Linked DNA regions of Homo sapiens. The protein of the gene in region 1 purifies or fractionates together with the protein of each later gene. This does not show direct contact. Each region holds a gene or a part of one and is shown in the gene's direction. Other genes may lie near its edges. The genes, in order: SIAE, MAN2B2, MANEAL, DCBLD2, TENM3, GDF11 and CHSY3.

Region 1 (3,500 bases):
TTAGGGACTGGGCTGTTATTCCAAGAGCAGGATAAATAGGCCACGGAGCTGTGTAGGCGACTCCATTAGCTGTGCTGCCCTGTTAAGTATAGCCGAAGGGGCCCTCATCATTTGTAGCTTCCAGGGAGGAAAATGTCAGCCTTGTTAATTCTGGTTCTCTTTTCTGCCTATCATTTTTGTTTAAAATGCTTAAAAAGATCTAAATTTTGTTAATTATTTTAGGTAGTTTGGGGTCTGTTTTATTCAGATAAATTGGGATATAATTTGTTTTATTTTTTTCCTTGTTAAGTTTTGATGAGGAACACGCTGAGATAATTTGGATGGATGTTTGTATTAATAAAATACTTTTATATAGGCTGGATGTTAAAAATAGGAATGATGTCGTTAAAGCGAGTTCTTATTCAGTCTTGTTAGTGACTCTCTAGAATAGAATCCAGTTTCTAGTGTGCTTTCTCTTGTCCTTTTAGTATAATTTAGCTTGTGGAATGGGTAAAATTGTGACAGAAGACCTTTGTTCAGACATGTTGACCTTCTATCTCTCACTGACCTTATTTATGTGTCTTGATTTATTTGAATTTACCTGAGAAGGAAGCTGACTTGTCATGAGTATTTATAAGGGCTTATTTAGAATTTTTGATGCAGTACACTGGGTTGTCAAAAAACCATGATAAGGGGCATTATTTGAAGGAAATTGGCATTAGTGGCATAGAAAAGGGGAGATAGAGAAGGGGAAAAAGATTAGGGAAGGCTGTTTGGAGAGAGGCATGCTGTTTTATTCCCAGTCATTAGGAGCAGGTGTGGTAATGGAAAGTAGGGAAAGGAAGTGGTTTATTTTTCTCATAAACACCATCTATAGGTGCATGAAAGGAGCATTTTAGTGATTTTGCGGGAGAGAGCCCAGCGTTAGGGCCAAGCCCAAGAGCAAAAAAAGATCAAGAGCTCTGAAGGAGAGGGAAGACTATGGTCCATTGGTTGCCTTGGGCTCTGGGAATTTTCCTTAGTGGTCATCATGTGCTATGATGCATACTGTTGGAAACTGTTCTTGTTATGTTGCTTGCCTAATTAGGAGGAAGAAGAGCCAGTTTTAGACGATTAAAGGGACTTAGTATGTTAAAATTCTCTTGCATAAAGACTGTATGTTCTTTGCTGTTTCACTTGATCCAGTTGGTGCTATATCTCTCCGATGATGCTTCCCTCAGTGTTTGTTAAATTTTTTAGGTATTGGTTTTCGCTTTGCTTCATACATCAATAATGATATGGTGCTGCAGAAGGAGCCTGCTGGGGCAGTGATATGGGGCTTCGGTACACCTGGAGCCACAGTGACCGTGACCCTGCGCCAAGGTCAGGAAACCATCATGAAGAAAGTGACCAGTGTGAAAGGTAAGGCAGCCCATCTTCCGTTCAGCTATTGCCCTCTTCTGCCACCTGCTGGATTATCTGAAAATGAATGCTAATGCTGTAGCTCACATTATCCATCCGTCCCTACATCCGTCTGTCCATTCATCCATAAAAGTTATTTGAATATTTGCCATGTGCTTAGGCACTGAGGATACAAACAAAAATAAGACTGAGTCAAAGTTCCTGTTCTCAAGGAACTTACAGAATAATGGGAATAGATACCAAGTTATATAGGACAGCGTGATGAATGCTATGATGAAGGTACATGTGGGGTGTCTTGGGGTACAGAGGAGAAACATTGAACTCAGACTGGGTGGTAAGGGAAGGTTTCCACAGAAGATGGTATTTGAGCTGAATCATATATAGAGGAGAGGCAGTATGGAGGAGAGGGTAAGAACTCTGGTAGTCCTTGCCCAACAACCTTCTTACCTTCTTACCTTAAAAAGTCTTAAAACCCAAGACTAGCACCATGTAAATCCCATTTCTTATTTTTAAACCAATATATTAGAACCAGCAGTTCTTTGGATTTCTAAGTCAGCATCATTTACTGAGAGTGCCATAATGTAAGAATGTAAGACTTCATATTGGTAGTCTAAGGCTCTGGAAGTCACTGCTTTCAGGCCCTGATTCTGTCATTTATACGGCTGAATAATCTTGGACATGTAATATAACATCTCCATGTCTCAGTTTATATGTGAAATGGAGATCGTCATGATACCTACAGGATTACTGTGAGAATTAAACGAATTAACACTGGTAAAGACTTGTAACAGTGCCTGGCACACAAGTGCAGAGTCAGTTTTAGCAGTCATGATTGTAACTATTACTATTATTATTTAGTCAGTCATTCAAATATCTATTGAGAGCCTACTATGTGCCCGATACTGTGCTAGGTACTGGTGATACAGTGATGAGTAAAACAGATATGTCCTCTTCCTTAATGAGGCATGCAGGTTAGACAGGAAGATAGTAAGCAGTTATCGTTAAGTGTGATAAGTGCCACAGTGAGGAAGAACAAGGTGCGATGGGAGTGCTTTGTAGAGAGTAGGGATAATTACGTAGTCTGAGGCTCATCTTGAGAGGTGAGCAGGGCACACTGGGTAGTGAGAATAGCCTGGCAAAAGCATGGAGGCCTGAGTGTACCTGGGCCATGGGAGAGATGCCAGGCAGGTTGGTTGGTCTGGAACACTGGGGGGTGTGTGACTGGGCAGATGACAGGAGATAGGTTGGAAAGACAGGGAGACTTGTTTGTCATTGCTAAGGAGTGTATGTTTTATTCTAAACGGACAGATTTTTAAACAGCAAAAGAATATGATAGATATTTTAGAAAGTTCGCTGTGGCAGCACTGTGGAAGATGGATTGGAGATCAGTAAGATAGAGGTGGTGGGCAGGCTGCTGTGATATCCAAGCAAGAGATGATGAGGGTTTGACCTCATAGAGTGGCTGTGGGGATGTTCAGGAAGGTGAGAATTAGCAGTTTTCATGAGCAGGGAGATATTACAAAGGAGTGAGTCTCTGTCTAGAAGAGATAAAGATATAGAAGCCGGTGTGGAGGAGGCAAAGCTAGAAGTTATGGGATGAAGGAAGGCATGCTCAGGGCTGGATGTTACAGATAGCGCTATAGCTGTGTGATGTGGAGGTGCGAATGAGACAGATGAGGAGGCTGCTCAGAGGTGGAGGTGGAGTTCAGGTACAAATTGGTGGTTTGAGCAATGGCTAGCATATATATGTGACAGGGATGCTTGTGGGAATTGTACTGGCCCCCGAAAGCAAGGATTGTCTGGTTGGTTTTATCAGTATACAAAACTGATGATCCAATCCCGAGTGATCCAGACCCTGATGCAGTCTCTTCAAAATTCATTTCCATTCAGCAAACATTTAAAAATACTATATGCCAGGCATTGATGTAAGGTAAGTGCTTCTAATTCTTGGGTTTTAAGACTTTTTAAGGTAAGAATGTTGTTGGGTAAACTAAAAGACCGAAAGGGAAGCTTCAGCTGATTGAGACATGCTTCTCTGTTGGATCTAAATGCCGTCAGTGACTTGCAGGATGTCCTGAAAGTGAAGGATTCAAGGGACTCTCAGTGCTTTCTGTTTGTGC
Region 2 (3,500 bases), on another chromosome or scaffold:
GGCTGGTGCAGCCTCTAGACCTCTGACCTTCTTCTTCGGGTATCTAGGGTGCCAAAGCATCTCCTCAACCAAGACCCACTCCTGGCTGCCCGCCAGGGCCTGGGGCACTGGGCCTGCCCGTAAGCTCACCTTTCCAGCCTTTACCTCCCCAACTCCTGCTCCCGGCAGTCACGCCAACACCACCTTAATTTTAGATGTGACATTTCTAGTGAGGGGAAAAGCATTTGTTCCCAGCACTGCAGTGTCAGGGAAAGGCTGGGTGTGGGCAGCGGCCCCCGGGGGTAAGAGCTTTCATGCCCCTCCCTGAGGGGACACTTTCCCAGCTGGGATGTTTAGCGGAGGCCCAGCAGAGTGGCAGGTGCCAGAGGGAAAGAACCCCTCACCCCTATCCTGAGGGGAGAGAGCCCAGCTCCCGCCTCAGAGGTGCTGAGAGGCAAAGGGTCCAGGTGAGAGTCAAGGAGACACCTTGGGCCATCCTGGATGACCACTGCTGTCCTGGCCATTCAAACCCAAGCTCTCAGCCCTGTCCCCCAACCCCACTCCCTTCCCACTGAATCCGCGATCCCTCTCCTGTGTCACAGACTCTCTTCCACCTTCTCTTGTCTCTCTGACTCCTTCCAGCAGTATTTAGTTGTTGTTGTTGCCGTTGCTGCTGTTGTTGTTGTTGTTAGACAGAGCCTCACTCTGTCACTCAGGCTGGAGTGCAGTGGCGCAATCTCGGCTCACTGCAATCTCTACCTCGCAGGTTCAAGCAATTCTTATGCCTCAGCATCCTGAGTAGCTGGGAGTACAGGCGTGCACCACCATGCCCAGCTAATTTTCATATTTTTAGTAAAGACAGGGATCTCACCATGTTGGCCAGGCTGGTCTTGAACTCCTGACCTCAAGTGATCCGCCCACCTTGGCCTCCCAAAATGCTGGGATTACAGACCTGAGCCACCAAGCCCGGCCCCCAGCAGTATTGAAAACACACTTAAATTGTCTCTCTTCAAAAAAAAATTTTTTTTAACATGGGGTCCACTGTGTTGCCCAGGCTGGTCTTGAACTCCTGACCTCAACATCATAAAGCAAGACCCTCCAGCTCAGGCTGTAATGGCATTTATTCCCACCACCCCCTCACCCCCCACCACCTCCCACTACTTCACCCTCAGCCCCTGCATCCTGGCCTCTGCCCTGCATGTGCTAGTGAGCTTGCTTGTGGCCTGGTCATTATACTGGTGAGGATACTGGTTCAGCAGCTTGAACAGAGACCAAGTGACTCCAACAAGAAGGAAGGTGTGTTTCTCTCCTGTGGAAGTCTGCAGTGCAGGCCACTCTGGTGATTGGGTGGCTCTGCTCCATGGAGTGACCCAGGGATCCACGTTGCTTCCATCTTGATGTTCAGCCATCCCCCACAGTGTTGCCTGCCTGAGTTGCAGTCTAGACTGGCTCACCCCACTGAGTTGTCCTTCCAGCAGCTAGGGGATAGGGAATGGTGGAGCCAGGGCAGGCAGCTTCCTTGTAAAAGGCGACCTAGAACCTGCCCACATCACTCCTCACATTTCCATTGGCCAGAACTTAATCATATGGCCTCCCTCAACTGCAGGGACTGCTGGGGAATAGAGTCTATTTTGCTCCCAGTCCATTGGCCAGAGTGGTGTCATGTGACCTCTACCAGTTGCAAAGGAGGCTGGGGAATGTAGTCTCTGGCTGGGAGTCCATTTGCCCTGCTAAAACCAAGAAGGAGTGTGTGGTTCTGTTACTAAAAGGAAGAAGGACAGAATGTATATCGGACGCCAATTAACAGTTTTGGTCATGAATCACCCTGAAGTCTCAGGAATGCTTTCTGCTGGACGGCCAGAAAACCTAAGTAAAGCTGTTAGTGGTGGAAGGTATCCAAGTTACCAGCAGCTAATCCGTACGGGTCTGCAGCAACCCCAGTTCTTGCCTCCTCGGAAGAAAGAATTCGACTGAGGGGCATAAGGCAGAAAAAGAGACTGAGGCATGTTTCAGAGCAGAAGTGGAAGTTTATTTAAAAAGGCTTTAAAATGAGAAAGAAAGGAAAATATGCTTGAAAGAGTCCCAAGTGGGCACGTGAAGGTCAAGTGCTGTATTGATCCTTGATCCTAGGACTTTATAGGCTGGTCCCCTTTCCCATGATTCTTCCCTTAGGCTGGGCTACCCGCACTCACAGTGCCCTCCTTACCCTTGGGAGGTGAGCACACGCACTGTGTTTAGGAAGTTGCACACATGCCCATCTGACGCTTTCTTCCCTTTTCCAGTGGAGTGTCCCTGGAAGGTCAAACTCCGCCATTTTGTCTCTTAATGCACCTGCTCGGGAAGTCACGTCTCCCTGGCACCTGCATTCAATTAACATGTTAGTGCAACAGGTGTGGACCATCAGGAAATGCCCTCTCCCTAGTGCTGGCTGCCAATTTCTCACTTCTAGAGAGGCAATGTGATAATTGCCAAACCATCACCCAACATTCCTAGTGGGTGGGGGAAGAGCCCTCCCCTGCCCCACTCATGCTTGTCTAACTACCTGTAACAAAGCGACTTGAGTCTTAAGAACATTTACTTAACAAGATGGGGATAGTTTGGGACTGGTTCTGCAGTACCTTGATATCTGTGATTCTCATGTCCTTACCCTTGTGGTCACGATATGGCTGCCATAGCTCCAGCCATCATGTTACCAGACACCACATTCAAGGCAGTAAAAGGAAGAGAGGGGGCTTTCTATACCCATAGTCTATTCTGTTGGATAAACTTAGACACACTAAAATGTTAGCATTTATTTGAACAAACAGTGATTCCTGAATCAGGAAGTACTAGACTGTGAGCAGTTCATGGCTCCACTAAGGGAATATGAGAGGGAAACGTCTATAAGGTGCTCCTGAAAGCAAGACAAAGAAAACATTTGCCTACAGTGAACAGTCCCTAGTTAGAGGTTGGTTGGCAGTTTCCGATGGGTCAAGCTTAAGTTCTCTTTTCCTGTTTCCACCAAGTTAGATTTGGGTTTGCTGACAGAGGAACTCGAGGCCTGGAGCCGGCTCAGCCTGATGGCCTCCCAGTTCATTACTTAACAATGCCCCTCCAGCTGCCAGACAGAGAGAACCAATATCTGACAGGAGGGAGTAAGCGTGCCACATTTGGCTTAGATCAACTGTGATTCGTCCCTTGAGGCTGGGCATGGTGCACCCTGAACAGAGGGAAGGTTCTGCGAGTGAAAAAGGGGTGCTGACTTGGCAGCCTTCAGCCTGCCCCCACCGGCTGCCCTGTCTGGTGCGAGGCCGTACCCTCCAGAGCTCCTGGCTCCTCTCAGTGCGGTGCTGTTGCCCACTCCCTCCTTCATCCTGCAGCTGGCACTCCCCCTGTGCTCCCCCCACCCTCTGGCTGCTCCTTCTCCATCCTCTCTGCTTACATATGCACAGCCTCCACCCACACTCCTAGTCCACGCTCCCCCTGATCCCCTCTCACCTCTGCTGTGCACCTGATGCCAGCCCCACTCCTCACCTCCCACA
Region 3 (4,155 bases), on another chromosome or scaffold:
CATTGTTGGATCAGAGAAAATACCCACTCTGCCCTGCCACTGGGCTCCTTGCTTTGCAAGTTGATACACTGGCATATTCCTTAAGTCAGGCTGAATCGGGTATGGGCGACCTGGAGCTGAAGGCATTCCACTTCATTCACATTTACCACCATAAGGTCTCTCAAGCTCACTTTCCTCGGCTGCAGGTCTACCAACACTTCCCAAGCTCCCTGCTCCTCTTCCTGGGTTCCCTACAATTCATTTTACTTAACCAATAAGAACTGGGTGCCCGCCATCATCCCAAGCTCTGTTTTAGACATGCAGACAGGGAATGAAACAAAGTTGCTGTCATTGCGGACCACTGAAGGAGGCATATGATAAACAAAACTATCTTCTGAATAAATGAAGTAATGAATAATGCAGTGTAGGAACTCTATCAATAGCGAGTGAAAAGCTTATTATCTACAGACTATCACACCAGGGGCTGGTACTCACTTAAACGGCACTAGGAAGTGAGTGTCAGATGCTGTTCCGGCAGCCCTTGGCGTCTAACAAGGTAAATAAGACGGGGCCTGTCCTCTGGAGCCCAGAATCCAGGAAGAAAGGCGCACATGTATTGAGCGCTTGCTTTTCAGGCCCCGTGGAAGTGCTTTACGGGAACCATCTCATTTAATCCTCCCTGACTCTAGGAGGTTCTCCCAGGAGAGACCGCTCCAGACGACATCAGGCCTACAAGCCAAGAAATGCAGCAGGCCTCTAGAAACTGAGAAAGACCCCCAGATGACAGCCAGCAAGCAAATGGGGGCCTTAGCCCTGCAATTGTATGGAACTGAATTCTGCCATTGAGCTGGACGTAGATCCGTTCCTAGAGCCTCCAGAAAGGAGTGTAACCTGCCAACGCCTTAATTTTGGCTTCGTGAGATTCCAACCAGAGAACTCACTAAGCCACACTGCGACCCGGCAGGCTGGGCAGTGCAGCGAGCTCTGGAGAGTGCGCCCTGACCCGGGGTCCAGGCCCGGTCAGTGTGACCTTGCGCGAGTCACGGTCGTCCTCCGCCCGCCAGGCCCCGGACGGCGTCTGCAGGGTCCGATTCCTGGGGATTTCCCGACGCCCCTTCCCCCGAGGTTCAGGGGCTGCCTGGGGTGCCGGGGAGGGGGGCCGAGGGATGGGGGACCTGGGGCTAGAAGGGTGGCACTGAGACCCGTAGGGAGGGGGCCAGTGAAGTGAGTAAAGGTGGATCGACGAAGAAGGAAATCCTTGGGGAGAGAACCACCGACGCGCGCTTCTTTCCCCCCCCCGCCCCGCCTCCGCCCCCGCCCCCGCCGCGCCGCCTCTCTCCCGCGCTCCGGAAGGCCTGCGTCCCCGCTCCCCAGCCAGGCGCCACCACCTGCCGCCCAGGCAGCCAGGCGACTCTTCTTTCGCGGGTCACGCGGCCTGACTCAGGCCCCTGCTCCTGTGGCCCCGAAACTCGCCGTTCGCTGGGCCTTGCGTTGCACTCGGCGTGCAGTTCCCCCTCGGCTCGCGGCCACTTGGTCCGCGCCGCCTGCGTCCTGTGTGCCGAGCCCGCCCGCACTGCGGGGACAGGCCGGGCGCCGCCCACGCCGCGCTCTGCCGGGCGCACAGTCTGCCTGGGAAGCGCGCGGCCGGGCGGGCGGCCATGGCGCGGCACGCTGGGAGGTAGCGCGGCGGCTGCAGGAGCGCACAGTCGGCCATGGCCCGGCGGCGGCGCCGCGCCTGCATCGCTCTGTTCCTGGTGCTGCTCTTCGCCTTCGGCACCCTCATGGGTCTGCGCACGCTCAAGGCTCCGGACGGACTCCCGGCGCTGGGCCCGGGCCTGGAGCTGGCGCCCTTTGAGCGACGCCCAGAGGGGGCCCCCGCGCCCGCTGCCAGGGCCCCGGCAGCCCCTGCCGCGCCGCCCCCGCCGCCGCCGCCGCCCCGCACCGCGGACCCTGGCGGCTCCCCTGGGCCGGCACCCGCGGAGGCCGAGCCCGCCCCCGTGCAGAGCCTGCGCGTCTACTCGGACCTGCACGCCTTCTACTACTCGTGGTACGGGAGCCCGCGGCGCGAGGGCCACTACATTCACTGGGACCACGTCATGGTGCCGCACTGGGACCCCAAGATCTCGGCCAGCTACCCCCGCGGCCGCCACAGCCCCCCAGACGACTTGGGCTCCAGCTTCTACCCGGAGCTGGGGCCCTACAGCTCCCGGGACCCCGAAGTGCTGCGGGAGCATATGACCCAGCTCAAGGAAGCCGCCATCGGTGAGCGCCCCCCACCCCGGGCGGCCCTGCCCCCCAGCCTCACCCTTCCTCCTTCCCACACCCCAGCTCCCTCTGGTCCTGTCACCGGCCCTTTGGTCCCACTTATCCGCCAGCCTGGCTTCTTAGCTGTTCCCTCCCACTCTCATCCTGGGCCCACCATGCGACACCGCCCCTCCGTCTAGTATTCAGACCCCCCAGCTGGGCCCTTCCATCCCTAACATCCAGGGCCCTTCCCATAGGGCGGAACTGCTAGGAGTTTGCACCAGGAGAGGGAGGCAGAGTCTTCAAATTTGTTGGGCGATGGGAAGTGAGGCCTGGAGTCCTGGCCCGCAGGTTCTGGGGTTCAGAGGAGTGGAACTTAGGGCGGCCTCTGCTTTCATGGCAGGTACAGGGTAGAGCAGCAGCCGTTCCTGCTTTTGCTGGCTGCAGAGAGGAAAGTGTGCCCGTGTTCCATGAAGGCCTCTGCTCTATTTGCAGTTGGAGGTAGTGTTGGGGGTTTAGAGGCTTTTCATCAAGCACCCAGCTGGAGGGAAGGTCCCAGGGCGCCTCCTTCGTAGGCTATGGAGGGGAGGCTCACTTATTTCGGATTTCGTCACTGAATTTTGCTGGATTTTACAGATGGCCTCTGCTCAGGGCTCTTCTCCATGCGGGACGTTAGGGTTAGGGGTGCTTCTCTTCTTCAGAGGTAGGCCTGTGGCTTCCAGGTGGGTGTGGCACTGTCCTCCCATTCCCTTTGTTCTACTACTTGCTGAGGCAGTCTAAAGCCTGGCTCCCTTCCGGCCTGGCGCGCTACGGTTCCCGCAGGCGCTCCGCTTCAGCACCGCGGGCGTGGACAGCTCCGGGGCGCGAGGCTCTGGGACTCATCTGCAGGAAGTGAACCTGGCAGGAGGCTTGCTTCAGGTTTTTAGGAACCATTTTTGCAATTGGAGATGTTTGTGAGGAAAAAAATCTCTGTTGAGGGGGGTACTGTGTGTCTCTGAAGTGGCCTCTGTGTTGCGTCTCAGGCGTCCTGGTCCTGTCCTGGTACCCACCTGGCATGGCTGATGATAACGGGGAGCCCTCAGATGACCTGGTGCCCGCCATTCTGGACACCGCCCATCAGTACAGCATCCAGGTGAGTCTCCAAGAAGAGGCCACGTGCTCTCTGCCCTATTCTGGAGAGTTGCTCTCCTCCGCCCACAGGGTTAGTGCCTCTACAGAAGTTCTTGGCAGTAGCCCAAAGGGATAACAAATATGTGGCAAGTGTGGTTTTGGGGGAGGGTTCAGATAAATGGTGCCTATGTTGCTCTTAGTTTTTTGAATTCTAAGAAAACTGAGAAAACTAAATATAGGACCAAGAGAAGACTAAATAATTATCACTTTTGTTAAATAATAATAGAGGTTAGGTTGTAAACCCTGGTGGAAAAAGGGTAGGCAAGAGCCAAAGGGACCTGCAGACTCAACTCTCTAGTGGGAGGCAGTGCTGGACCTCGAGGAGTAGGCAGGTGTTCTCAGCAGGTGGGCTCACTTTCAAGAGGAAGGACGGACTGGACGAAGCATTTCCCCACATGTGCCAATCAAGTAAGTCATCCCTTGCTTCTGTGGTGAAGGAAGAAAAATGATAGAGAAAGAAGAAAAGCCCCACTCCCCTATTCCTGAAGAGAATTCCACCACTGACATGTCTAACAGATCACAGCAGTTTTCCACTGACACAGCTTCAGCATACTTATTCCACTGTTTCAGGCAGCTAGCACCAACCACTTGGAGCTGGCACAAGGTTGAAACCTATTAGCCACCCTGTAACAGCCCACCAAAATGATTCCCACATGCCCTGCTGCGGGAGATGGGCAAACTGCTCACCCCTGTTTTGGCCTTCAAGGGCAGCAGCTGCCTTTATCTCTACTGTGCCCACCACTGCCAGGCCCTCTTCTGAAC
Region 4 (3,500 bases), on another chromosome or scaffold:
TCATTTGGAAGAGTAATGTGTTTCTTCTGTCTTTTCTAAGTGTTAAAAAAAAGTCTACATAAGAGTCTAGAAGTTTGTTGCCAAATCCTTATTTATTTTACAGATTGAAAGGCTTAACTACTGTGTTCCTTATAGCACATGGGGATTCAAGATAATTGAAATACTTTAAATATAAATTTAAGTTTGACATAAAGTGTTACATCATAAGCATTATTGTGAATCTTCCTTTCATTCTAAGAGAATATTTTGAAGATGTATTTTCATGGTAACTATAGTGTTCTACTGTTTTATAAAACGTAGGGTAGGCATCAAAAGCAAGAGAAATTGAAACATTAAATAGAAATGCAGTGTTAGCAATCTGTTTTTATAAATCTTGTCTCTTAGATCTGCTCAGTCTTTCAGACAACACTAAGCCTAATTGAAACCAGCTTTTCTTCAGAGGTCCTAGGCCAATTTTCATTCAGAAGACACAAGCATCATCCATATCCAGATTGGTATACAACAGGATTCAGCAGATTTGTTCTGTAAAGATCCAGCTAATAAATATTTTAGGCTTTACAGGCCACATGTCGCTGCAGCTTATTCTTTTTTTGTTTTATTTATAGCTCTTTATTCTTAACTCACGGCCCATACAAAACAGGCCATGCATGGGCAGTCATTTGCCCATCCCTGGTATAGATTCAACTACCTTCCCTTCTTTTTTTTTTTTTTTTTCTAGATTATTTTATGCAGACCCTTTCATTCCTTTACCATGTTATACCTTTAGAAAGATTTAGTGTTTGTGAATTCTCTCTTTCATACTTTAAAAAAGAAAACAGGGATAAATTGCATCCTCTTGTAATGGTTTGTATGTTGGACTAAAGGCAGGAGTGTACACTGAAACTTCTTCCATGAGATGTTGATTTCTCCTAAAAAAAAAAAAAAAAAGAAAAAGAAATCTATTAGTACCCAACTTTTCTCATGTTTATCCGAAAAAACTTGAGCCTCATTCTCTGAGAATTAGACCTTTTAGTGTATTTTCATCGAAAGCATTTGCCACAGAAAAGTGTTAAGAATCCATTTATTTCATGAAATAAAGTAGTGAGAGATTGACAGTAAACAATGAGTAAATACATATGAAAAAGAAGTACATATTAAAGATTACATAGAGAACTTTTGCACAATCACATATGAAACTGGGTGCTAGATACTTGTAGAGAAAGCTGTTTATGCTGATTTCAGAAGTTGTCCTGCTTAGAAATGAGACTTTTTTCCTAGGAACAATATTAGTTGTCTAATTTTTAGCCACACAGTCTTCTTGGTTCTTTTATTGGGTGGGGGGAACCAAATCAAAAGAAAATGTTTCACTAAATATGGGGCATCATGTGTTATGTGAGTATCACCAAAAAAAACCCTTCTCTCTTTCAGGGGACACTTATCTACAAGTCTTTTTACATTTAAGACAAGTGGTAAGCCTTTTATGGACTTTATAATTTTTTATTTATATAATATTTTTTGAACACTGTTAGGCACTGTGTCAGTTGCTGATTTATTGTACTTTCTCACGTAGTTGTCTTAATAACACTATGAGGTAAGATAGTTATCTAATAATATAATGAATAGAGCAAATTGAAAGTTTTATATTTATAGAGAAATGGTCATGTAAGCAAGGAAGGTTCCTTAAGAAAGATGACTTTTGAACTTGTCTGAAGAAGTAATCAATTCGTTCAACAGAAAATACTTACTGAGTGCCTTCTCTTTATGTGCCAGGCATTGCTCTGGTTCGAGTGATAGAGTAAAGTGAACAAACTCCTGCCTTCCTGGAGCTTACATTCTAGTAGTGAGAGATTGATGATAAGCAATGAATAAATTTCTGTTTATAATGTACTGTTTACAATATGATAAAAGATGTAGGAAAATAAGGAGGACTGGATTGAAGTTGGGAAGGGCCTTCCTCCCAGGGAAGACCTCAGGGAGAATGCAACATAGGCCAAAAACCTGAAGGAGGTAAAGGAGTGAGTTACTCAGTTATTTGGGAAGAGTGTCCCAGGGAGAAGATAATGTATCTCCATTAAACTAACAGTCATGCTTATAAATGAGCATGTTTGTAGGTTTCCTAATGATACACAAAGACATATGCCCAAGAAACACTTGCCTAGTTTTGAAATTTCTCTGTTACAGTGTATTATTAGTGTAGTGTATGTTAATTAAAGATGGAATAGAAAGTTTTCAGTGAGCAGGTCTACATGCATTTTGAAATTATACCTGGAAACCAAATTTAGTCTTTTCTTTGTTTCAGGATGTTATGGAACACTGGGGATGGAGTCTGGTGTGATCGCGGATCCTCAAATAACAGCATCATCTGTGCTGGAGTGGACTGACCACACAGGGCAAGAGAACAGTTGGAAACCCAAAAAAGCCAGGCTGAAAAAACCTGGACCGCCTTGGGCTGCTTTTGCCACTGATGAATACCAGTGGTTACAAATAGATTTGAATAAGGAAAAGAAAATAACAGGTTAAGAGACAAAAATTTTCTAAAGCAATTTGTAACACTTATTTTATTTGAAAAACTAGTAACATCTAAGATTTTCAGAGAAAATTAAGGCATTAAAATTGTAATTATATGGTTTTATATTTTCTTCACTGATGTTAATATTACTAGAGACACATTTTATGAAACATGGCAGAGAAAAGGAGTTATTTGTGTTGGTCAGGGTTCTCTAAAAGGACACAACTGATAGGACAGATGTATATATAAAGGGGAGTTTATTAAGGTGTATCGACTCACATGATCACAAAGTGAAGTCCCACAGTAGGCCATCTGCAAGCTGAGGAGCAAGGAAGCCATTCCGAGTCCCAAAACCTCAAAAGTAGGGAAGCCAACAGTGCAGCTTTTAGTCTATGGTCAAAGGTCCAGAAGTCCCAAAGCTAAGAACTTGGAGTCTGATGTTCAAGGGCAGGAAGCATCCAGCATGGGAGAAAGATGTAGGCTGGGAGACTTAAGCCAGTTTAGTCTTTTCACATTTTCTTCTGCCTGTTTTTATTCTGGCCGTGCTGATGCAGATTAAATGGTGCCGACCCAGATTGAGGGTGGGTCTGCGTGTCCTAGTCCACTGACTCAAATGTTAATCTCCTCTAGCAACACCCTCACAGACACACCTGGGAACAATACTTTTCATCCTTCAATCAAGTTGACACTCAGTATTAACCATCACAGTATTTAATTCGTAATAGCTTTTTGTTTCCATTGTAATGAGACTCTTTTTTTAAGGTAGTGTTTCAGTAAAGTGGTCTTGAGACATCTAAAATAACGGTCTCCTACAGTCATTAAGAGAAATTTATGTTAAAGGAGTCCATTTTAAATGATGAGATCATTAATTTTCCACATGTGGAGAGTATAAATTTAATTTAGGGGAACTTAGCAAATGGTCGGAATAATTGGTTGGGATTGGTTTAATTTTGTTAAAATATTTATTTTGTTTTGGTACTGTAAATAATACCAATAATCATCTTTAATCTGT
Region 5 (3,500 bases), on another chromosome or scaffold:
AGTTCTGTAACATTATAACCTCCAGAATAGAATAAAAGCCTTATTCTGAGCTGAATGGCTTTTGGAGTCACATGGCAATATTTTAAAATACCACCTTAAAGGTTTCCGGGTTCTCTCCCCAAAAAGTTTGTCTCCACCTGTGCACAGTGAGCCTTTGAAGTCACAACTGATGGTAATCAGGACTTCTGGGCCCTTGGCCAGTTTTGCCAGCTTGCAGCATTCATCTTTGATTAAGAATCAACTGTTGATTTTAATACTCTCAATTTAGGGGTTTTATTAATAGAAAATGGGTTGTGGAAGTCCGCATATCCTTGGGCAATCGCTTTGGAGAGCTAATAACACACAACTTCTATTTGAGACCAGCCTTGACCAACTACAAAATAAATTTCGTTTCTTTTCTACAAGTATGTCTCTCTCCTGCTGCTGTGCATTGTTCTTACCTTTGCTAGCACTGTTACTAGCACAGGCTGCAACTTAGCAGGACTGATGGCTTACCCAGTCTGTCTGAGCATCTATTACTCGCATTTTTCGTAGCATTTGCCATAGTTCTGCTGTGAAGGTTACCGTCTTCATGTCTAAAAACAGTAGGTTTAGATTTGTAGGACGAAAGCAAACAGGTGCTCTTTTTCAGATTATTAATTGTGAAATTGGATTTTCTTTTTAAGGTAAGAATTTAAATTTATGAAAGGACAAAACAAACTCCAACACCTTTCATTCTGAACATTCTTCTCCTAGATGTTAACAGCTGGCTGGTGACATTTGGTTTCCATCTGCACAATGCTATTCCTGGATTCCCTGTTCCCAAATTTGATTTAACAGAACCTTCTTACGAACTTGTGAAGAGTCAGCAGTGGGATGATATACCGGTAAGAAACAAAAAGACCTACGGAAAGGTGATAAGTAGCTTGTGTCTTATCTACCCATATCTAATCAAACTACCCTTGTGAAAACTGTACCAAAGACAGTTTTTAACTTTTTGACTGTTTTAGGGAAAAAAAACAACACTTCCTCTGCATTTGTGTTCAACAAACCAGAGGCCTCTTAAACAGGCTTAAATATGTTTTCAGCAATGCTAATGAAAACATAGAAATGCAGAAGCTCACTTTCGAGTGCTGGGTTTCTAAAAAGAACCCCAAGAAAGCGTGGACCTGAAGGCAAAAATACAATAAACAAAAGGGCAGGGAACTCATATTACAAATTAGCAAACCACAAACAATGCCACAAGGTTCAACTTCTTTAAAAATTAACAGTGTTTTGGCCGAGTGAGGGGGCTCACGCCTGTAATCCCAGCACTTTGGGAGGCCGAGGAGGTCGGATCACCTGAGGTCGGGAGTTCGAGACCAGCCTGACCAACATGGAGAAACCCCATCTCTACTAAAAATACAAAATTAGCCCGGCATGGTGGGGCATGCCTGTTATCCCAGCTACTCAGGAGGCTGAGGCAGGAGAATCACTTGAACCTGGGAGGCGGAGGTTGCAGTGACCCGAGATCACGCCATTGTACTCCAGCCTGAGCAACAAGAGCGAAACTCCGTCTCAAAAAAAAAATAATTAATTAATTAATAGTGTTTCATAGGAAAAGATTAAAAATAAAAATAAATGTCCTCTGGTAAGGCTCCACCTACAACCAGGAAGGTTTATGGAATTTTCCTGAGAATAGCAGATCAAGAGGCCTGTAACCATTATAAGAAATAAAGAAATATAATAGAAAATTGCAAAGTCAAAGCTGCCGCTTCAGAAAGTGGTACTTCTAATCCCCACCAGAGACCAGAAAGGAATGCACAGCAAAACACCAGAATTTCCAGCTTACAGTAAGAATAATTAGAGATGGAGAAACTGGGTGACTCCATGATCATAAGGAGAAGACAGTGCAGACTTTCTTAGGACAATTAATTCCCAACCACCCCTTGAGCAATTTCCTATCATTTCAATGAAAACAAAGAGAAGAGGCAGCCATGGTTAACACACACACAGGCTATCTACAGTACCAGTACCTGTTTTTTGTTGTTTCATACCTAATATAAAAGCAATTCCTTTTTCATAAGTTACAAATATAGTCGTGTGTGTGCAACATTTTGGTCAATGACAGACCTTGTATAAGGTGGTGATCACATAAGATTACAATATCATATATATTTTTTTTTAATTGAAATGGGGTCTCACTGTGTCACCCAGGCTGGAGTGCAGCCTTGACCTCCTGGGCTCAAGCGATCCTCCCACCTCAGGCTCCCAAGTATCTGGGACTACAGGCACGTGCCACCACACCCAGCTAATTTTTTATTTTTTGTAGAGATAAGAGTCTCCCTGCGTAGCACAGGCTGGTCTTGAACTCCTGGTCTCAAGCGTTCCTCCTGCCTCCACCTACTGAAGGGCTAGGATTACAGGCATGAGCCACCGGGCTCTGCCAACACTGTGTTTTTACTGTACCTCTTCTATGTTTAGATACACAAGTACTTACCATGGTGTTACAGTTGCCTGCAATATTCAGTACAGTCACACCGTATACAGGTTTGCAGCCTAGAAGCCATAGGCCATCCCATACAGCCTACGTGTGCAGTAGGCTACACCATCTAGGTTTGTGTAAGTGCCCGCTATGATGTTCACACAAGGACGAAATGGCCTAATGCCACATTTCTCAGAATGCCTCCCTGCGGTTAAGCAGTGCATGACTGTCTACACTGATACAGTGGCATGAAGACATACCGAAGTTTCCTAATGCATTTGAACATGCACTTCCTAATTGTGTATGACTTTCCAACATGCCTGAAAACACCTACATCTAACTGTACAAATGGACTTGCCAGCTCTTTTCCTAAGCAGCCTTTTAAATATGGTTCAAGTTCTCTGTCAAAAGAAGTGCACCATAAGGACAGCATAGGAAATCGTGGGCAAAGACACTGAGGCTGCCCCAAGTACAGAAAAACAACTGTTTCTTTCATTGCCGCAAATGAAACAGATGTTTTCATTTGGGAAACAATGGCCAGACAAACATCTGGTGGTATAAGAAATGGCTGAGTTAAGATGCCCCCAATTTAAAACATTTGCCAGTCTAGACGGTCCACTGTCCCTAAGTCTGAGAAAAATAATTGTTTTCCTAAAGTAACAAATATCGTCTCCAGCTGCCCCACCTTCCACTCATCCCTGTACATTTCAGTTCTGCGGTTACACTCACCATCTTCAGCTGAAAACTCTGCCAGGAGAGGGGACAGAGTTGACTTAAATACAAGCATTTCAAAGCATACGAAGCGGGGCCCTGTGATCGGCACTAAGTATCCCCAGCCGTTCAGATCCCTCTCTGTGTTTGGTGGCTTCTCAGCCTCCTGTGGAGAAAGCTACGAGCATGCAGATCCGGATGAGCTGGGTTCCCCACGTGGGGTGGGAGTGGGAAAAGAGCATCTAGAAACTGTAAGAGAAAAGCAAGAAACAGGACTATTTTTCCCATGTTAGAAACGAAGAAAGCTTTAAAGTGATCCACGATGAGTGAGCCATTTGGGGGTTCC
Region 6 (3,500 bases), on another chromosome or scaffold:
TTTGAGGCTTTCGGCTGGGACTGGATCATCGCACCTAAGCGCTACAAGGCCAACTACTGCTCCGGCCAGTGCGAGTACATGTTCATGCAAAAATATCCGCATACCCATTTGGTGCAGCAGGCCAATCCAAGAGGCTCTGCTGGGCCCTGTTGTACCCCCACCAAGATGTCCCCAATCAACATGCTCTACTTCAATGACAAGCAGCAGATTATCTACGGCAAGATCCCTGGCATGGTGGTGGATCGCTGTGGCTGCTCTTAAGGTGGGGGATAGAGGATGCCTCCCCCACAGACCCTACCCCAAGACCCCTAGCCCTGCCCCCATCCCCCCAAGCCCTAGAGCTCCCTCCACTCTTCCCGCGAACATCACACCGTTCCCCGACCAAGCCGTGTGCAATACAACAGAGGGAGGCAGGTGGGAATTGAGGGTGAGGGGTTTGGGGGAAAGGGGAAGCAGGGGCATAGTCAGGGTGGGGAGTGTTTGAAGTTTGCAGATGAGAAGGTTTGACAAAAAGACAGAGAGATGTAGAGACAGTGATAGAGACAGAGGAACAAAAAGAGCAGCAGTGAGAAGGCAAAGAGAGAGGCAGAAGAGACAGACGAGGCAGAGACAAAACACTGAGAAAGAGACTGAAATGGAGTAATAAATGAAAGCCCCACACCAAGCCTCCTTTCTTCCACTGGCAAGGTGAGGGGCTTGGTATAGTTTGGGGAGATCCCCTGACTATTCAGTAGGAGAAGAAATCAAAAATCCATTCTTTTCTCCTTCTCTCCCTCCAACAGTGGCCAGGGGAAGGGGAAGTGAGGGCAGGGGCAAAAAGATTTGGGAATTTTTATTTATTTATTTATTGTGACTTTTCATTTTTTTGGTATTTGGCTTTACTGGAATAGGAGGGCCCCTGCCCACTGTGCCCCGTTTATCCCTTATTCCCCAAACCCTGCTCTCCCCAACACCTACTCACTTAAGCACTTGTATAAAGCCTCCAGGGTTGGGAATGGGAGTAAAGGGCAAGAGGGCGGACACATGAAGTTTAGTTTCTAACCCATCATCACCCTAACTCAACCTTTTCTGAGCCAAATGGCTTGAATTGAAGCCAGTTGTCATGGAAATAGTAAGAGGTTAGGGTTTAAGAGCTGGGGATGCGGGGGTGGGAGAGAGAACCCTCAACATCCAGGATCTATATAATGAGAGCTACTTTAAACCCTCAGGTCCACCCTCATGATGCTGAGTTATTTAGCCAGAGGGTGCAGCCTGCTTATGCCCAAATTCCCTCAGCCAAGAGAGAGACCAAAGAGCCTCTGGAATGGCCCTGCTCCCAGCCTCTATCTTCAGGTCAATTAGAGAGAGTATAGAGACCCCAGAGTCCCCTGGGTCTGGAAAGCGTTAGGAGAGGTCAAGAAAGGAGCAGTAAGGAGGCTGAAGGTTACAGGGCATTTGAATCCAAATCACTGCTCTGGGCTAGGGAATAGAGCCAGCAGACCAAGGTGGGAAGGATTCTGGAAGGGGGACATTTTAGTCTCCTAACCCCAAAGCTCAGGGTGGAAGAGGGGAGAACAAGGAAGCAGAGTGTATAATTATTTTTTCCTTTTATTTTTGGAATCTAACAGTACCTGGCAGCAGGGAGGGGAAAGTACAGTGGGGAAAAGCATCTGACAAGGCCAGTTAGAACAGAGGATGGGAAGGATGGAGACTCCCGGGCTTGGAAGGCTAGGAAGCAGGCAGAGACTGGTTGCCATTTCAAGTCACTAGCTAGGCCCATTCATTCCTCCCACAACCCTGACCCATTCTCCTCTGGACTCACTGTGCCTCAGTTTCTTCCCCTCAATGGAATGAGAAATGACAGCACCCGCCACAGCCAAGAGATGAATTCTGAGCACTTACCACGGGCACTTTATGGACATAAAATACCTCTCGCTGTGGGACAGATAACCAGGGCACCAGAGTAGTGGTGAAGAGATGTGAGGCTTAAGAGGAGTCACAGGCTTCAGAGTACAAGTTCCCCTCTGCCTCCCAGCTGGACAGTGCCTAGAAGCCAAGGAGTTGAGAATCTCCTGATCCACACCCTATCCTTACTTCACCACCAGGCCTCTTGGCTCCAGGCAAGAGCTTAGAGGATGTCAGGAGAGGTGGGGGTAAGAATCTTCAGCAAAACTGTCACTCTAAGTAGAGCCAGCAGTTACGGGTCTGATAAAAACAGTACTGAACTAAAGTAAAGCCCAAGCTGGTGAGCAAAACTGGATGGCTCATTCTTCCCAAGAGCATGACTCTCCCCCTTGGCCAGTTGGTGGAAGGGGCAAAGGTATGTGACCACCCTTGAGAAGGTGATGTTGGTGAGCTTTAACATCTTATTCCTATTCTTATAGTGAGAAAGTGAAACAAGATCTTTCAGTAGAGGAATGGGCAGGGCTGTTAGGCTCTTCAGCTTGCCTTCACCCATATAGCAGCTATGCTAACCCCAAGCCTCTCTGGCCCTGTTCTTCATCCTTCCTTCTGCCCCAATCCTGAAGGACAAGACACACCCGGCCATCAACACCACTCACATTTCCTTGGTGGAAGGAAAGGAACAGAGAAGTGAAGAACAGATACCTCCCTCCAAGGTCAAATGCCTCGTGATCTTGGCAGAGTAGGGATTGGGCAATAAGCATCAGGTATCTTCCCTCTACAGATTCTAGAGAGCTGGGGCATTAAATATGGGGGACACTTAGAATACAGCTCCTTAAATACCACCAAATAAAGACCTTTGTGTGTGTGTGGTGGGTGGGGGGGGGGCAGGGGTCTTTCTCTTATGAACATAAATCTGTGAGCTGAAGTCTCATTCCCCTGTTCCTCCCTACCCCCAAAGAGGCACAGAGTGAAGGGACTTGGGGGGCACAGCTCAGCAACCCAGTGGGAGTTAGCACCCCCTCCCACCTTATGATGTGTGTGGACCTGGCCAGTGCCCCTCTGAACATATCATTATTAGTGTAATTATCATTTATTTTGTGTATTTGTCACATTGTGTGCATGACAGCCTTTGTTAAGGGTGTCTGAGGAGTATGGAGCTGACAGGGGCATTGGAATGCCAGGAAAGAACTTCTTCAACTGAGATCAAGGCTTCCTGGAGGGAACCACTGCAAAAAGGCCATCAGGCAGTTTTCAAGTTATGTGACAGAGGGCAAAGACGGCCATAGGGTGCTCTGAGTTTTGGGATGGTCACATGACACAATCCAGCACTTGAACCTGAAAAAAAAAATAAAAGCGGTCAAAGAGTTTAGAATTCAGTGCTGAGCTCTTCTCCCTAATCAAGTGCCACATTTACACCTTGGAGAACCGGAGGTGAAGAGGATCTGAGACAGGAAACCTCGTGTTCAATGACTAAGAAGATGGGGTCCTGGAGCAAGACAGAAAACACTAAGGGCATGGTGGTATAAGGTTTGGGACATGCAGGCCAAGGAAGGATGGAAAGAGGACAGGAAACTGGGGGTACCTAGAACAACCCCTCTCTGAAAAGCTTGAGCCAA
Region 7 (3,500 bases), on another chromosome or scaffold:
TTTATTTTTAAACGTTTTTTCTGAACTTAACAAACTGCAAGTGAAACCAATTACACTAATTTTTGACAAACTTTTTTCTAAAAAGGTGCCTTCCCAAATTAAATTTCAAGACAGGTTTGATTCAAACATCCTCCAAAACTGTGCGGGTTGTATATGACTGAAGTTTAGTTAATGGCAAAACACTGAACTAAACCAATTATGAGTAAAAAATAATTATTAGGTATTAAGAGTCAGCCAAAACAATGCTAAATACCAGTATTTAATATTATTTTATATTCCTGGGAACTTCTTGTTACTTCAAATGTACTAAGAAACCTGTCTTTACTTTCCTTGTCATTATTTCACTTTTTACAGAAAATTGATGATTGTCAGAGCTGTTAAGGTTTTTCAGTGACCTTAACCAGAAGCTGGTACAATTTTAATATGTTTAAATTAATAACTATGAATTAGTCTTTTAAAAATAATAGAGTATTGGAAGAGGCTTTTTCTTCTTTTCAGTTGTGTAAGACTGAGGATTTTAAGCACAATGTTGAAAGTTCTGTCCCTTACCTTGTACATGATAAGTGATTATGAAATAAGGAGACATAGTAATTGTTGCCTTTCTTTTTGTAGGTGATAAATTAGAAGAGTTTCTTAGATCGCTAAACAGCAGTAAGCCTCTCTACCTGGGACAGACTGGCCTGGGGAATATTGAAGAGCTTGGAAAGCTGGGACTGGAGCCTGGGGAAAACTTCTGTATGGGAGGACCTGGCATGATCTTTAGCCGAGAAGTTCTCAGGAGGATGGTGCCACATATTGGTGAATGCCTTAGAGAAATGTACACGACTCATGAGGATGTGGAAGTAGGAAGATGCGTTCGCCGTTTTGGTGGGACTCAGTGTGTCTGGTCTTACGAGGTAAGCATGGAGCTGTGATGAAAATGTTCACATAGTACATATACATGCCATTTTATAATCTAGGGCAGCGATTCTATTCATTCTCTCTGTATCTTTGTATTTACTTGAAAGTGATAGTAGCAGCCCTTAAGGGATACAAGAGTGGGAGATAACTTTCTCATTAGGTGTCAGGCCTGTCTGAGACTTTGTTATTAGCATGCCCCTTAACTTTAAGCAGTGGCCTATACTTATGGCCACATCTCTGGAAGATGCTTATATCCTCCCCTGCTTGATTTATTGGTGCTTATATACATGTGAATCTATTTCCCTTTTCTAACAAGAGGTTTAATTTTACTCTTCTCTTTAGCTGTAGCCTTTAGCATTTGGTACTGTGCCTTTTTATTTTATTTTATTTTATTTTGGTTAGGTGTGTAATGGCATCTCTTTGTTTTTAAATGGTTAAAATCTGAAGTTTCTTTGGATATTTTCCAGTGGAAATTTAACATATTTTTAAAAGTATCAGAAAAGTAAACTAATAGTGTATCATTTATGGTAGATGTATTCACAAAATTCCAATCACTGTATTTCCTTAGGCATACAAAAGGAATGAGTTGTCTGGAAAAAAGCAGAAGTTTAAATGGTGTGCAGTAGCTGCTTAGTATTTTTGACAGGTTCCCTAAAATTTGTTTATGTCTATTCTTATGCTATTTTCTGAAAAGGAACCATTATTTAAATAATCTTAGCTATTTATTTATTGCCGTGATCATTTTTATGAAATACTTAGAGATTTTTTCTTCAGAAATTGATTTTGAAATGTAATAACATTTTATTTAAAATAGATTTCCTAAAAGATAATTTTAGTAAAAATTTATTTAACATTAAAATAATGTATTGTTTTTAGTATAGTTTGGTTTTCAAGTAGTTGGAATTTAGTATTATTTTAGCTACGGAGTGCACAGCTTTGTAAATTATATCTTAACTCCTTTGCTTATGTTTTCAAACTTTTCATGTCACTTAGTATAGAAGAAACATTTTATGAAAATATGTTCCCTGTGAAGTCACCAAACACACAGTTTCATTTGTTTTTTTTGTATTGTAAGTGTAGTCTCACTATAGTTAATTTTGCTTTCTCTTTCATACTTTGTGGTATTTATACTTTGGGGACATATTTTATACATTACAGAAAGTAAAATTTATTAGTCATTTGAAATAGGCATGAAAATTTGAAATGATTATGTTGCTGATTTCTTTTGATAATAAAATGGTAATTTGTAAAAACTATCCTACAACTACCCTTTAGGATAAAAATTTATGTAAAAACATTACAGTTTAGAGACAGGTAATCTAGAATAAACTCAATAAAATATTTCTTCCTTTGTTATAAAACAAAGTAAAAGACAAAAATATTCAATACAGAGAACATATTCAGTTGATTTTGTTTACATGCTGTTATTGTTTTGCAGGTATTTACTTTGCATGGATAAGTAAAAAAATATTTGTGTGGATAAGTAAAAAAATCTCACCTGTAGTTAACAATATAGATGGGAAATTATTGTGTTTTATAGGATACTTTATTACCTTAACATAATATATAAAATTTTAACCAAGATAGTGTTTAGGTGTTCTTCTTTTCAAGTTCTCATTGATTCTGCTGTGAAGGCCTAGTCTTCACCTAGCATTCCATTCATTCATGTTCAAGACAGTAAGATATGCACAAAAATTGGGAGCTCAAAAATTGATTTAATATTTTATTTATAATATAGGCCTTTGTTCTGGTTAAAGTGAAGAGAAGTTATATTATAGATGTGCACCCTGTCTATTAGAATAAGTGCAATCTTAGATCCTTTTATTAACTGATGTAAGAGCAAACAAAAGAGATTCCAAGTCTTACAGGCTGTAACCTGGTGAATATAACATTTTCCATAACTTTTCGTAATACATTTGAATTTAGACTGACACTTGACCATCACTGACTTATGAATCCGTATAAAACTAAACTAATTGTCTCAACATGTTTTCCTAGCATTATAAAATATTTTCTAGATAAGTACTGTTGACTTTATGTTTTGCTAAGTTATTATATAGAATTTACTTTGTATTGGGATTTCAGTCATTAAAGGAGCTATTTAAACAGTATTTATTTAAGGGAGGCATTGATTTAATTCTAATAAAAAATCTCAAAAGTCTTATATAGAGAAATGATGGTAAATTTTATTACCAAGAGATATGTGAAAAAGCATTGTTAGCAAAACTAGTAAAGATACATATACAAAGAGATTATATCTAAATTTTAATACTAGATTGTGTTCTATGTTTCATGAGACACCTAAGTACGTAACTTGGGGCACAGCTAAACTGGTTATAACATTCACAGATCCCATACTTCACTTTCTAATTTGGATTTTATGTTAGTGGAAATGGTGTCCATATATGATACTGTTCATATTATATAGAAAGATTGGTCTATTCTACTCCAGGTTGGCATTCTCAGTAAAGGTGAGATTTTACATCTGCTCATTAAAAAAGCTATGAAATTGATCATTACTTTTTTTCCCATAGTTCTTTTAAAAGCACTATCTGTGATAGAATTTTGGTAAATTTTTAAATTTCTTTTATCTATGCCTT

The links.
Region 2: the proteins of SIAE (region 1) and MAN2B2 purify together in Homo sapiens (affinity purification with mass spectrometry; 2 studies listed by BioGRID and IntAct, with this or other methods). This does not show direct contact.
Region 3: the proteins of SIAE (region 1) and MANEAL purify together in Homo sapiens (affinity purification with mass spectrometry; 2 studies listed by BioGRID and IntAct, with this or other methods). This does not show direct contact.
Region 4: the proteins of SIAE (region 1) and DCBLD2 purify together in Homo sapiens (affinity purification with mass spectrometry; 2 studies listed by BioGRID and IntAct, with this or other methods). This does not show direct contact.
Region 5: the proteins of SIAE (region 1) and TENM3 purify together in Homo sapiens (affinity purification with mass spectrometry; 2 studies listed by BioGRID and IntAct, with this or other methods). This does not show direct contact.
Region 6: the proteins of SIAE (region 1) and GDF11 purify together in Homo sapiens (affinity purification with mass spectrometry; 2 studies listed by BioGRID and IntAct, with this or other methods). This does not show direct contact.
Region 7: the proteins of SIAE (region 1) and CHSY3 purify together in Homo sapiens (affinity purification with mass spectrometry; 2 studies listed by BioGRID and IntAct, with this or other methods). This does not show direct contact.

Annotation. Positions count from the first base shown.
Region 1 is NC_000011.10:124,667,240-124,670,739, reverse strand, and holds part of SIAE (sialate O-acetylesterase isoform 1 precursor), read left to right. Parts: intron 1-1,218; coding exon 1,219-1,380; intron 1,381-3,500. UniProt on the Homo sapiens protein: Catalyzes the removal of O-acetyl ester groups from position 9 of the free diacetylated sialate N-acetyl-9-O-acetylneuraminate (Neu5,9Ac2) in the cytosol and of the diacetylated sialate residues of sialylglycoconjugates in the lysosomes.
Region 2 is NC_000004.12:6,581,689-6,585,188, forward strand, and holds part of MAN2B2 (epididymis-specific alpha-mannosidase isoform 1 precursor), read left to right. Parts: intron 1-3,500.
Region 3 is NC_000001.11:37,792,492-37,796,646, forward strand, and holds the start of MANEAL (glycoprotein endo-alpha-1,2-mannosidase-like protein), read left to right. Parts: upstream 1-1,355; 5' UTR 1,356-1,691; coding exon 1,692-2,241; intron 2,242-2,996; exon of another isoform or gene 2,997-3,245; coding exon 3,246-3,355; intron 3,356-4,155.
Region 4 is NC_000003.12:98,818,196-98,821,695, reverse strand, and holds part of DCBLD2 (discoidin, CUB and LCCL domain-containing protein 2 precursor), read left to right. Parts: intron 1-1,407; coding exon 1,408-1,448; intron 1,449-2,278; coding exon 2,279-2,494; intron 2,495-3,500.
Region 5 is NC_000004.12:182,795,902-182,799,401, forward strand, and holds part of TENM3 (teneurin-3), read left to right. Parts: intron 1-735; coding exon 736-866; intron 867-3,500.
Region 6 is NC_000012.12:55,749,622-55,753,121, forward strand, and holds part of GDF11 (growth/differentiation factor 11 preproprotein), read left to right. Parts: coding exon 1-261; 3' UTR 262-3,500. UniProt on the Homo sapiens protein: Secreted signal that acts globally to regulate anterior/posterior axial patterning during development. May play critical roles in patterning both mesodermal and neural tissues. It is required for proper vertebral patterning and orofacial development.
Region 7 is NC_000005.10:129,907,465-129,910,964, forward strand, and holds part of CHSY3 (chondroitin sulfate synthase 3), read left to right. Parts: intron 1-612; coding exon 613-896; intron 897-3,500. UniProt on the Homo sapiens protein: Has both beta-1,3-glucuronic acid and beta-1,4-N-acetylgalactosamine transferase activity. Transfers glucuronic acid (GlcUA) from UDP-GlcUA and N-acetylgalactosamine (GalNAc) from UDP-GalNAc to the non-reducing end of the elongating chondroitin polymer.